Linked DNA regions of Homo sapiens. The protein of the gene in region 1 purifies or fractionates together with the protein of each later gene. This does not show direct contact. Each region holds a gene or a part of one and is shown in the gene's direction. Other genes may lie near its edges.

Region 1 (4,809 bases):
GGTGTTAGCTCCCTCTAGTGGCTGTTTAGTGCCTGCGTGGCTGCAAAGGGTTGGAGCCAGCCCTGCTATGTGCCTTCGAAAAGATATTCAGCAAGTCACTTCCTCACCTTTTAAGTTTCGTTTTCTTCGCCAGTTAAAGGAGGAAATCAAAATAATCTATTTCATATCAGAAATTTCCTCTATAGTTATTCAGGCCAGTAGGTTAAGATGGTTGTTTATGATCAGCACAGTTAGGTTTTGCTAATTTTCTGTAGCAAACAGCTGGAAAGAGTGAAAACAGGAAAGGTGGAGGCCTTGAGGAACTCTGGTGTTGCTGTTTAGGGAACTGGTTGCCCTGGTAACAGTGTGGTTGTTTATCGGTTGGTTTTTCTAGATTAAGATTCACGCCCTTTGCTTTCTCAAGTTTTCAAAATTATTTTTCTCACATCGCATACTATTGACCACATTATGCGGCCAACGATACCCATTTTCTTACCTGGATCTTTGCTTCTTAACACTGTAGTCTAATTTTTCTCGTTGCCTTGTTTTCTTGGCTGTAGAAGTTAAGAAGAGAAAGAAGGTGCTGTCCTGGCCCTTTCTCATGAGAAGGCTCTCCCCTGCATCAGATTTTTCTGGGGCTTTGGAGACAGACTTGAAAGCATCGCTATTTGATCAGCCCTTGTCAATTATCTGCGGTGACAGTGACACACTCCCCAGACCCATCCAGGTAGGCGTGCATTCTCTCATAAACCTACTTCAGTTTTCAGTTGGACATGCAAAATACTCGGGAAATCTGAATGTCATTCTCCTATTAAGTTTGTAGGGACTGATCTTCCATATTTTCCACTCTTCAACATGGCACTCCCACATACGCGTGCAGTCAGAAGAATATCTGACTGCTTCCATTCCAGAAATTGAAATTAGTTGTATTTGCCAATGAGCTCAGAGCTATGGTCCCGCCATTCCTCTGACTTCACAGAGTGGAGAATGCTGAAGATTTGTAGCTTCTGAAAAGTCAAAAGGGGGAAACAGAATATAGACTTTGTGATCTGAAATCCAATGTTCATATGGAAGTATTTGAAAGGAGAGAGCTCCAAAGTGATTTTAGAAAGTGCAAAATTAGAGCTTTCACAATTTGCCTCCTCTTAGAAAAATAGCAGGGTTGAGGAAGGCCATTGACAGCAACTGGACTGAAAGCAAAATCTGACATCAATATTCCTGTTAAGACTATCTCAGTATACTAAAGAAGAAGGGTAACCCTTTCCTGTTCCTATTGCTGTTTCCTTTAGGACATTCTCACTATTCTATGCCTTAAAGGCCCTTCAACGGAAGGGATATTCAGGAGAGCAGCCAACGAGAAAGCCCGTAAGGAGCTGAAGGAGGAGCTCAACTCTGGGGATGCGGTGGATCTGGAGAGGCTCCCCGTGCACCTCCTCGCTGTGGTCTTTAAGGTGAGTTCAACACACTTGCGCCAAATAACCTGCCAAGGGGCCCTGACACACTCATTCTCAGGATGCAAGAAATAGGCTCTTCTCCCCACACAGCAAGGTACACTGATCTTGGAGTTTAATTTTTTTCATTAAGCCCTTTATTTATTTATTTAGTAAGCACCTCTGTTTCTGTGACCTCAGATTCCAACAGAAAGTGATGCATTCTGCTCTCCCAAAACTTTGCCAAGTACGGGCAATTTGATTGTTCCGTGGCAGAATCCATACGTCAAAATCCAGTGGCCCCTCAGAACACACCCACCTGGGGATGGTGCCTCTGACTCTGCCTGATGTTAGAAAGTTGCAGAGAGGCCAAGGGTGTTGGAGAGAGGGTTCCCTGGATTCATCAAATGCAGGAATGAAGGGCCACAATCTATGATGGGCTAAGCATAGAGCACCCTGCGATGGAACGAAAACCGGGTGAAAACAAGGACATGGGACATCATACAGTACCAATAGGCCAACAGCCCACTCTCATCCCCCAGGACTTCCTCAGAAGTATCCCCCGGAAGCTACTTTCAAGCGACCTCTTTGAGGAGTGGATGGGTGCTCTGGAGATGCAGGACGAGGAGGACAGAATCGAGGCCCTGAAACAGTAAGTCATCAAAGTCATCGGTCATTGCCAGGCCACATCACCTCCGTCTTTTGATTCTTTACACAGCTTTCTAAATGCTTCATGATCCCTGTTCCATGAGAATTGTGATGTTTAGGGAATCCGAGTGGAATTGCTCGTCCACTCCCAGAACAAAAACCAGAGGGTGCCCTGGACTTTTGAATTTTAATTTTAGCCAAATGAAATATTTCTTCAAAAAGTAGAAAGCGAACTTCAATCCTCACAAATCCCAAGAGGTAGGGAAGTCTGAAAATGTAAGATGTTCAAAAAGGTATGAGATAAAATCAGACCTGAGAACTTTAACACAGGCTCACCAGCAAAGTGTAGAAATTCGGGATTATCTTTAAGCTACACTGACTGGTGTCATGCAAGGCAACAGTTCTCCCATAAAACATCCCTCAGGATGCAGCCAGACAGTGTGGTGGGGGGCAGTTGTTTTGTTCATAAAACTTCACAGCATATTTCATCTTCTTATAATTAACCCAAATGAAAACTATATAATAACACATTCCAGTGAGAGTAAAAATAATAACATATGCAATGGAAAGTGTGATCTGTTAGTGACTAGAGAATTCTAAAACCCAAGCTTTGAAATGTCAGCATGGTTGTCACATCCTATGAAAGTTTATCTAAATGTTATAATTGTCCCACATGGCTAAATACTTTCAATGACATATGTATAGAATTGAAGACATTAAAATGTCTGTCCCAAAATGAAAATTCTAAGATTATCACAATGAGTTTCTACCTAGACATAAGGCATTTTTATAACAATTCCTTCTTCTGAGAAATGAAAATAATCACCATTTCGTTTTTGAAAAAGTGAGACTTTAAGAAGTCTAATTTCTTATCATTAGAAACAATGTTGCGATTTAAGTGCCGCCTTATATGAACATGCCCTTAGAAACTGATTTAGTCTTCATAAAGCTTTCTCAGAATGTTGTAAAAATGTGTCATCTTCGTTTGGTAATTATAGTTTTGTTTCCGTCTTTGTTTTAAGGCAAGAAAACCAGTCTAGTCGTGTTAGAAACAGAAAGAAATTCTACATGACTAAATGATTACTCAACAAAACTATTTTCTAAACATAAAGGCAAACTATGGTGTTTAATGCAGATTGGCTTCATAATTTAAGCTCTGTATAAATAATAAAGGGCTGTGTTATTGGTGTCCCAATTACAAAGGCCAGTTTCTTAGCTCCTCAAGACCTTGTGGTTAACCAGTCTCACTCTGTGTCAGTTGCCACTGGAAGTGTCTGAATGAGCATTTCACAATATTACTTGTGAAAATGCACCTTCCTCATTTTAAAGGAAGTCTGGTTTCGGCAGAAACTCTCAGCTTGCTACACTGAAGACCATTAGCCTTTTTGAAAACTAACATCCCTTCACTTTATTCCAGGGTTGCAGATAAGCTCCCCCGGCCCAACCTCCTGCTACTCAAGCACTTGGTCTATGTGCTGCACCTCATCAGCAAGAACTCTGAGGTGAACAGGATGGACTCCAGCAATCTGGCCATCTGCATTGGACCCAACATGCTCACCCTGGAGAATGACCAGAGCCTGTCATTTGAAGCCCAGAAGGACCTGAACAACAAGGTTTGTTCTGCTTACTGATGAGAAATCCCCAACTTATGATCTCACCATCTGTTTGCCAAGTCCAGGCAATAAAATGCTTCAGAATGTCTCCAACTGACTCAGAATCACAGTGAAAATATAAAATGCAAAATGCTTTTGTCATAGTTCCACTCTCTCAGATACATGTATCTAATGAAACTGAATAAATCCGTGTCTTCTGTCATCTGTGAGACAGATGAGTGCTGCGAGTATTTACATCACTCTCTCCCGATATAAAAAAGCCCTTTTGTTTTTGTGTTTTGTACACCACAGTCTATCAGTCTATCAATCTGGGACACTACTTACTTAAATGAAAATTTTATTAATACTTTAAATTTTTTTAAGTTCTTAAATTTAAAATGCATGTCTCAAAACACCAAGGAGTATCTAACTTTAATGTATGTGATTGTTGGCATGGTGGCTCACGTCTGAAATCTCAGCACTTTGGGAGGCCGAGGCAGGCGAATTGCCTGAGCTCAGGAGTTTGAGACCAGCCTGGGCAACATGACAAAACCCCGTCTCCACTAAAAATAGAAAAAATTAGCCAGGCGTGGTGGCGGGCGCCCGTAGTCCCAGCTGCTCGGAAGGCTGAGGCGGGAGAATCGCTTGAGCCCGGGAGGCAGAGGTTGCAGTGAGCTGAGATCAGGCTACTGCACTCCAGCCTGGTGACAGAGTGAAAGCCTGTCTCAAAAAAAAAAAAAAGTATCTGATTGTTACCAAATTTCTGTATGCTCTTTTCAGACACATAAAGATCTCAGATTCTCATTTTGGCACCTGACTCCAGTGTCCCCATTCTTCCTCACCTCCAAAAAAAAAAAAAAAAAAAAAAAGTCTTCAAGCTGACAAATTGCTTACTTTTCCTCACAGGTGAAGACACTGGTGGAATTCCTCATTGATAACTGCTTTGAAATATTTGGGGAGAACATTCCAGTGCATTCCAGTATCACTTCTGATGACTCCCTGGAGCACACTGACAGTTCAGGTATGGAATGTGCTATCATTTGATTACGATTGTAGGGAAAAGTTCATGCCAGTCTGCCAGTCATGTAAAGCATCTCTGATATTTGAGGCAGAAGTTACCTTCACAAATCACCGAGTCAGACTAGACTCCAGTCCATTAG
Region 2 (4,809 bases), on another chromosome or scaffold:
GGGCTATAGGCGTGAGCCACCACACCCAGCCATGCCTGGCTAATTAAAAAAAAAAAATTTTTTTTTGTAGAGACAGGGTTTTGCCATGTTGCTCAGGGTGGTCTTATGCTCCTGGGCTCAAGACATCCTCCTGCCTTGGCCTCCCAAAGTGCTGAGATTACAGATGTGAGCCTCTGTGCCTGACTTGGGCTAGGATTTAATATGAGGAATTTAGAAGTTTGTTAGCAATAATCTGAGGTAAAATTCAAGAACAGTGGCATATAGTTAGGAGCAAATAACAGTAAACAAAAACTTTTATCATCCTTCTCTTCAATAGTACTTGCATTGGTTGATTGATTTATCAAATTTTTATTGATGGATTACCGTATGCCAGGCACTACCCTAAGTGCTTGGGGCACTTCAAAGAATAAAACAGATAGAAATTCCTGCCCTCATGCGGTTACATTCTAGCATGGAAAAGCATCACTAGTAAATTATATAGTATGTTACAAAGTGATAAGTGCCAGGGAAAAAGGAGCATTGTAAGTAGGATAAACTTTCCTCTTAGTGCCTTGAACATAGCAGGCACCTTCTGTATAAATAAATGAAGGAATGGATGATTGAACTACATTGATTTGGATGAGGAGACTGAGGAAATAAACCACTTTGTCCTCTTAAGAGTTCCCGTTCTCTTTTGCCTCTCTGCTGCTCCTTTTCCTGCCATTCTTTTTCTTTTGGTGGGGGATTTTAAAAGAGCTGTACCACTTTCTCATCCTTTTTTCTTTTTCTGTTTCTTTGCTTTTCTTGCTGGTGGGGGTTGGGGGAAACCCATGAACTATTGAAACTCTGGACCAAGGAAGTTCTGTGTGTCTAGCATGTAGCTAAAAGGATGCAAGGTAGAGGAAGAAATCCTTTGCTGGGTACAAAATAAGGATATACATAATAAGTCTGTGTTCTGACTCTCCACTTTTCTTTGGGAGATGGTTAAGAACATGGGCTCGGCTGGGCGCGGTGGCTAACGCCTGTAATCCCAGCACTTTGGGAGGCCAAGGCAGGCGGATCACGAGGTCAGGAGATCGAAACCATCCTGGCTAACATGGTGAAACCCCGTCTCTACTAAAAATACAAAAAATTAGCTGGGCGTGGTGGCGGGCGCCTGTAGTCCCAGCTGCTTGGGAGGCTGAGGCAGGATAATGGCGTGAACCCAGGAGGCAGAGCTTGCATTGAGCCGAGATCGCGCCACTGCACTCCAGCCTGGGCAACAGAGCGAGACTCCGTCTCAAAAAAAAAAGAACATGGGCTCTAAGCCAAACTGCTGGGGTTCAAATTGTGTTTAATCCATTATTACTTGTAAGACCTTGGGCAAAGTAATTAACCTCTGTGCTTTGGTTTCCTCTTCTATAAATTGAGAGTAAAATAGTACTTAATGGCATTATTTTAATAATTGAGAGTTCTCATGTAAGGCTTTTAGAGCAGTGCCTGGCACATGGTAAATGCTTAATAAATGTGAATGCTGACAGCTTGCCCTGAGAGGTAGAACGTGAAGGTGGGGAATGCAGCCGTAATGAAGATGGAGGGAAGTGCTCGTGTTTATTAGATGCTTGTTCTTTGACAAGTAGGGTAGGCATTTATATACATTTTCATTTATCCTCAGTAAAATCCTGGGAGGATGTGAAGATCAGAAAGTTAAGAAACTTCCTCACAGATCTGGGATTTGAACTTAAGTATCTCTAACACTAAAGACAAGATTTTTGTTATATCATGCTGAGGAGGGAGATTGGTTGGTATGCAGAATATGTATGCTTCTCTAAAATGGACAGCGGGATGGTTGGACAAGAGACCATTTTGTCATGTATCTCCTCTTTATTATGTGTCAGCAAGCTAATGGATATGATCTAGCATGAAAGTTGATAACCTTAGGGAAGGTTCTGAATTGTATACGTCAGCCAAGGAATATTTCACAGAGGAGTTTTGACTTAGGGAACAGGTTTTTGCTCCAAAAGAATTGGGGGAGGTGGATGGGAAAAGGGAAGATTGTTGATCAAAGGGTATAAAATTGCAGTTAGACAGAAGGAATATACTTTAGTGATCTGTTGCATAGAATGGTGACTATAATAAGTAATAATCGGCTGGATGTGGTGGCCCAGGCCTGTAATCCCAACACTTTAGGGGGCCAAGATGGGAGGATTGCTTGAGGTCAGGAGCTGGAGACCAGCCTGGGTAAGATAGTGAGACCCCATCTTTTAAAAAAAACAACAAACTCAATTAGCCAGGTGTGGTAGTACATGCTTGCAGTCCTAGCTACTTGAGAGGCTGAGGCAGGAGGATTGCTTGAGCCCAGGAGTTTGAGGTTACAGTGAGCTGTGATTGCACCACTACACTCCAGCCTGGGTAACAGAGTGAGACCCTGTCTCTAAAAAGTAATAATAATAAATAAATAATAATGCATTGTATACTTCAAAATTACTAAAAGAGTACATTTTAAATGTTTTCTTTCTTTCTTTCTTTTTTTTTTTTGAGACAATTTCTCTCCCCTCTCCCAGGCTGGAGTGCAGTGGCGTGATCTCGGCTCACCACAACCTCTGCCTCCTGGGTTCAAGTTATTCTTGTGCCTCAGCCTCCCGAGTACTGTGATTACAGGCATGTGCCACCACACCCGGCTAATTTTTGTATTTTTAGTAGAGATGGGGTTTCAGCACGTTGGCCAGGCTGGTCTTGAACTCCCAGCTTCAAGTGATCCGCCCTCCTCAGCCTCCCAAAGTGCTGGGATTACAGGCGTAAGCCACTGCACCCAGCCTTAAATGTTTTCATCACCAAAAAAATGAGAAATATGTGAGGTGATAGATTTGTTAATTAGCTTGATTTAATTATTCTACAATGTGAACATATATTGAGACATCACAGGGTACCCTACATATATATAATATATACAGTTATTATTTGTCAATTAAAAATAAAATAAATATTTTAAGAGAGAATGAGGAAGGCTGCCCTGAGTTGGTATGAATCTTCCCTTGGAGCTTATCAGGATGGAGTGGCTGTTCTTGATGTAGGAGGTGTGGGTTCTGGGACACACAAGCAGGATCAATTCTGTGTCCAGAGCCTCAGAAAAGAAACATACTCTATTGTGGCTCCCAGACCCTTCCATAATTTCACAGCATGGAGAGCTGTGCTTTCTTCATAGGCTTTTTTGAGGTTACTATTGTTTTTGAGGGCTCCCTCAGGAAATTAATTGGTCTGCTTTTCCAACTAGGAAGAAGATTCCCTCCTTAATATCTGCAAGGAGATTGTGGAACGATGGTCAGAAACTCAGAATGTTGTCACCAAAGTGAAAAAAGAAGGTAGAGTCAGAGTTTCTGTGTTTAACTTCCTGAGCCTTTTCCAGCAGCCTTGACTGTATAGCTGTTAGGAAGAGATCTTTTCATTTTCCCCTTGGATGCTCATTTTCCCGAAGATAGTGTACACTGGCAAACACCCAACAGCCTGTGTTACCTTTACTGAACATTGGCTTCCTTTTCTTTTTTTGCATTTTTCCATTTCGACTGACCACAGTTTTCTTCATTGTGGTTTTTTACTTTTTCTTTTTCATCATCTTTCCACTGCTTCTTGTAGATTTGCATTGCAGGTATGGAGTCAACTATATTTTTACCACTTCCTACTTTTTTCATGTTGTCTTTTTTTTTTGAGACAGAGTCTTGCTGTGTCACCCAGGCTGGAGTGCAGTGGCGTAATCTCAGCTCACTGTAACTGCTGCCTCCCAGATTCAAGTGATTCTTGTGCCTCAGCCTCGTGAATAGCTGGGACTACAGGCTCATGTCACCATGCCTGGCTAATTTTTGTGTTTTTAGTAGAGATGGGGATTTCACCATGTTGACCAGGCTGGTCTCGAACTCCTGACCTCATGTGATCTGCCCACCTCAGCCTCCCAAAGTGCTGGGATTACAGGCATGAGCTACAGCACCCTGCCTCATGTTGTCATTTCATAACACAAATTATGGTTGGTATTTGGCTTTATTCAGCTAAACACTTTACCCTTTAAAATGGAAGAGAAATGGGCGAATATACCCACCACTAGGATGGTAAATTAGGTACAGAAAACTCAAATCATAAAAGCCAAATTTGGAAAGATTCTGAACTCTGTACACTGTTGGTTCTCAGTTTTGGCTGTATATTAGAATCACTTAATGTACCTGGGTTGGGGCCCAGGCATTTGTATTTTTTAAAAGCTCCTGTAGGTGATTCTAATGTGCAACCAAGTGTGAGAACTACTATTTTACACCATTGTTTCCTTTTCTTGAGACTGGAGAACTTACTAGTTGATTTTATTTTATAGCATGGCAAAATATTTTTTTTTTTGAGACGGAGTTTTGCTCTGTCGCCCAGGCTGGAGTGCAGTGGCGTGATCTCGGCTCACTGCAAGCTCCGCCTCCCCGGGTTCACGCCATTCTCCTGCCTCAGCCTCCCGAGTAGCTGGGACTACAGGCGCCCGTCACCACGCCTGGCTAATTTTTGTATTTTTAGTAGAGACGGGGTTTCACTGTGTTAGCCGGGATGGTCTCGATCTCCTGACCTCATGATCCACCTGCCTTGGCCTCCCAAAGTGTTGGGATTACAGGCGTGAGCCACCGCGCCCGGCCAAAATATTCTTAATCTAAGAATTCCACCTGGCATAATCAGAAACATAAACAGGACCAGCTTAAGTTGATTTTAGATTCCTGCTTAGGTTTTTGGGATGCCATGGGGAAGTTGAGTGTTCAGAGGCTTAGTTTTCTGTGGTTCTAATGCAGTGCTTTTCAACCTTTTTTTTTTTTTTTTTTTTTTAAGGCAGCA

What was found. The genes of interacting proteins can lie anywhere in the genome.
Region 2: the proteins of TAGAP (region 1) and CCDC43 purify together in Homo sapiens (affinity purification with mass spectrometry; one large-scale study listed by BioGRID and IntAct). This does not show direct contact.

Annotation. Positions count from the first base shown.
Region 1 is NC_000006.12:159,037,975-159,042,783, reverse strand, and holds part of TAGAP (T-cell activation Rho GTPase-activating protein), read left to right. Parts: exon of another isoform or gene 1-539; coding exon 540-706; exon of another isoform or gene 707-986; intron 987-1,268; coding exon 1,269-1,430; intron 1,431-1,728; exon of another isoform or gene 1,729-1,865; intron 1,866-1,951; coding exon 1,952-2,061; intron 2,062-3,474; coding exon 3,475-3,670; coding exon of another isoform or gene 3,671-3,688; exon of another isoform or gene 3,689-3,879; intron 3,880-4,555; coding exon 4,556-4,670; intron 4,671-4,809. UniProt on the Homo sapiens protein: May function as a GTPase-activating protein and may play important roles during T-cell activation.
Region 2 is NC_000017.11:44,682,383-44,687,191, reverse strand, and holds part of CCDC43 (coiled-coil domain-containing protein 43), read left to right. Parts: intron 1-3,232; coding exon 3,233-3,320; intron 3,321-4,809.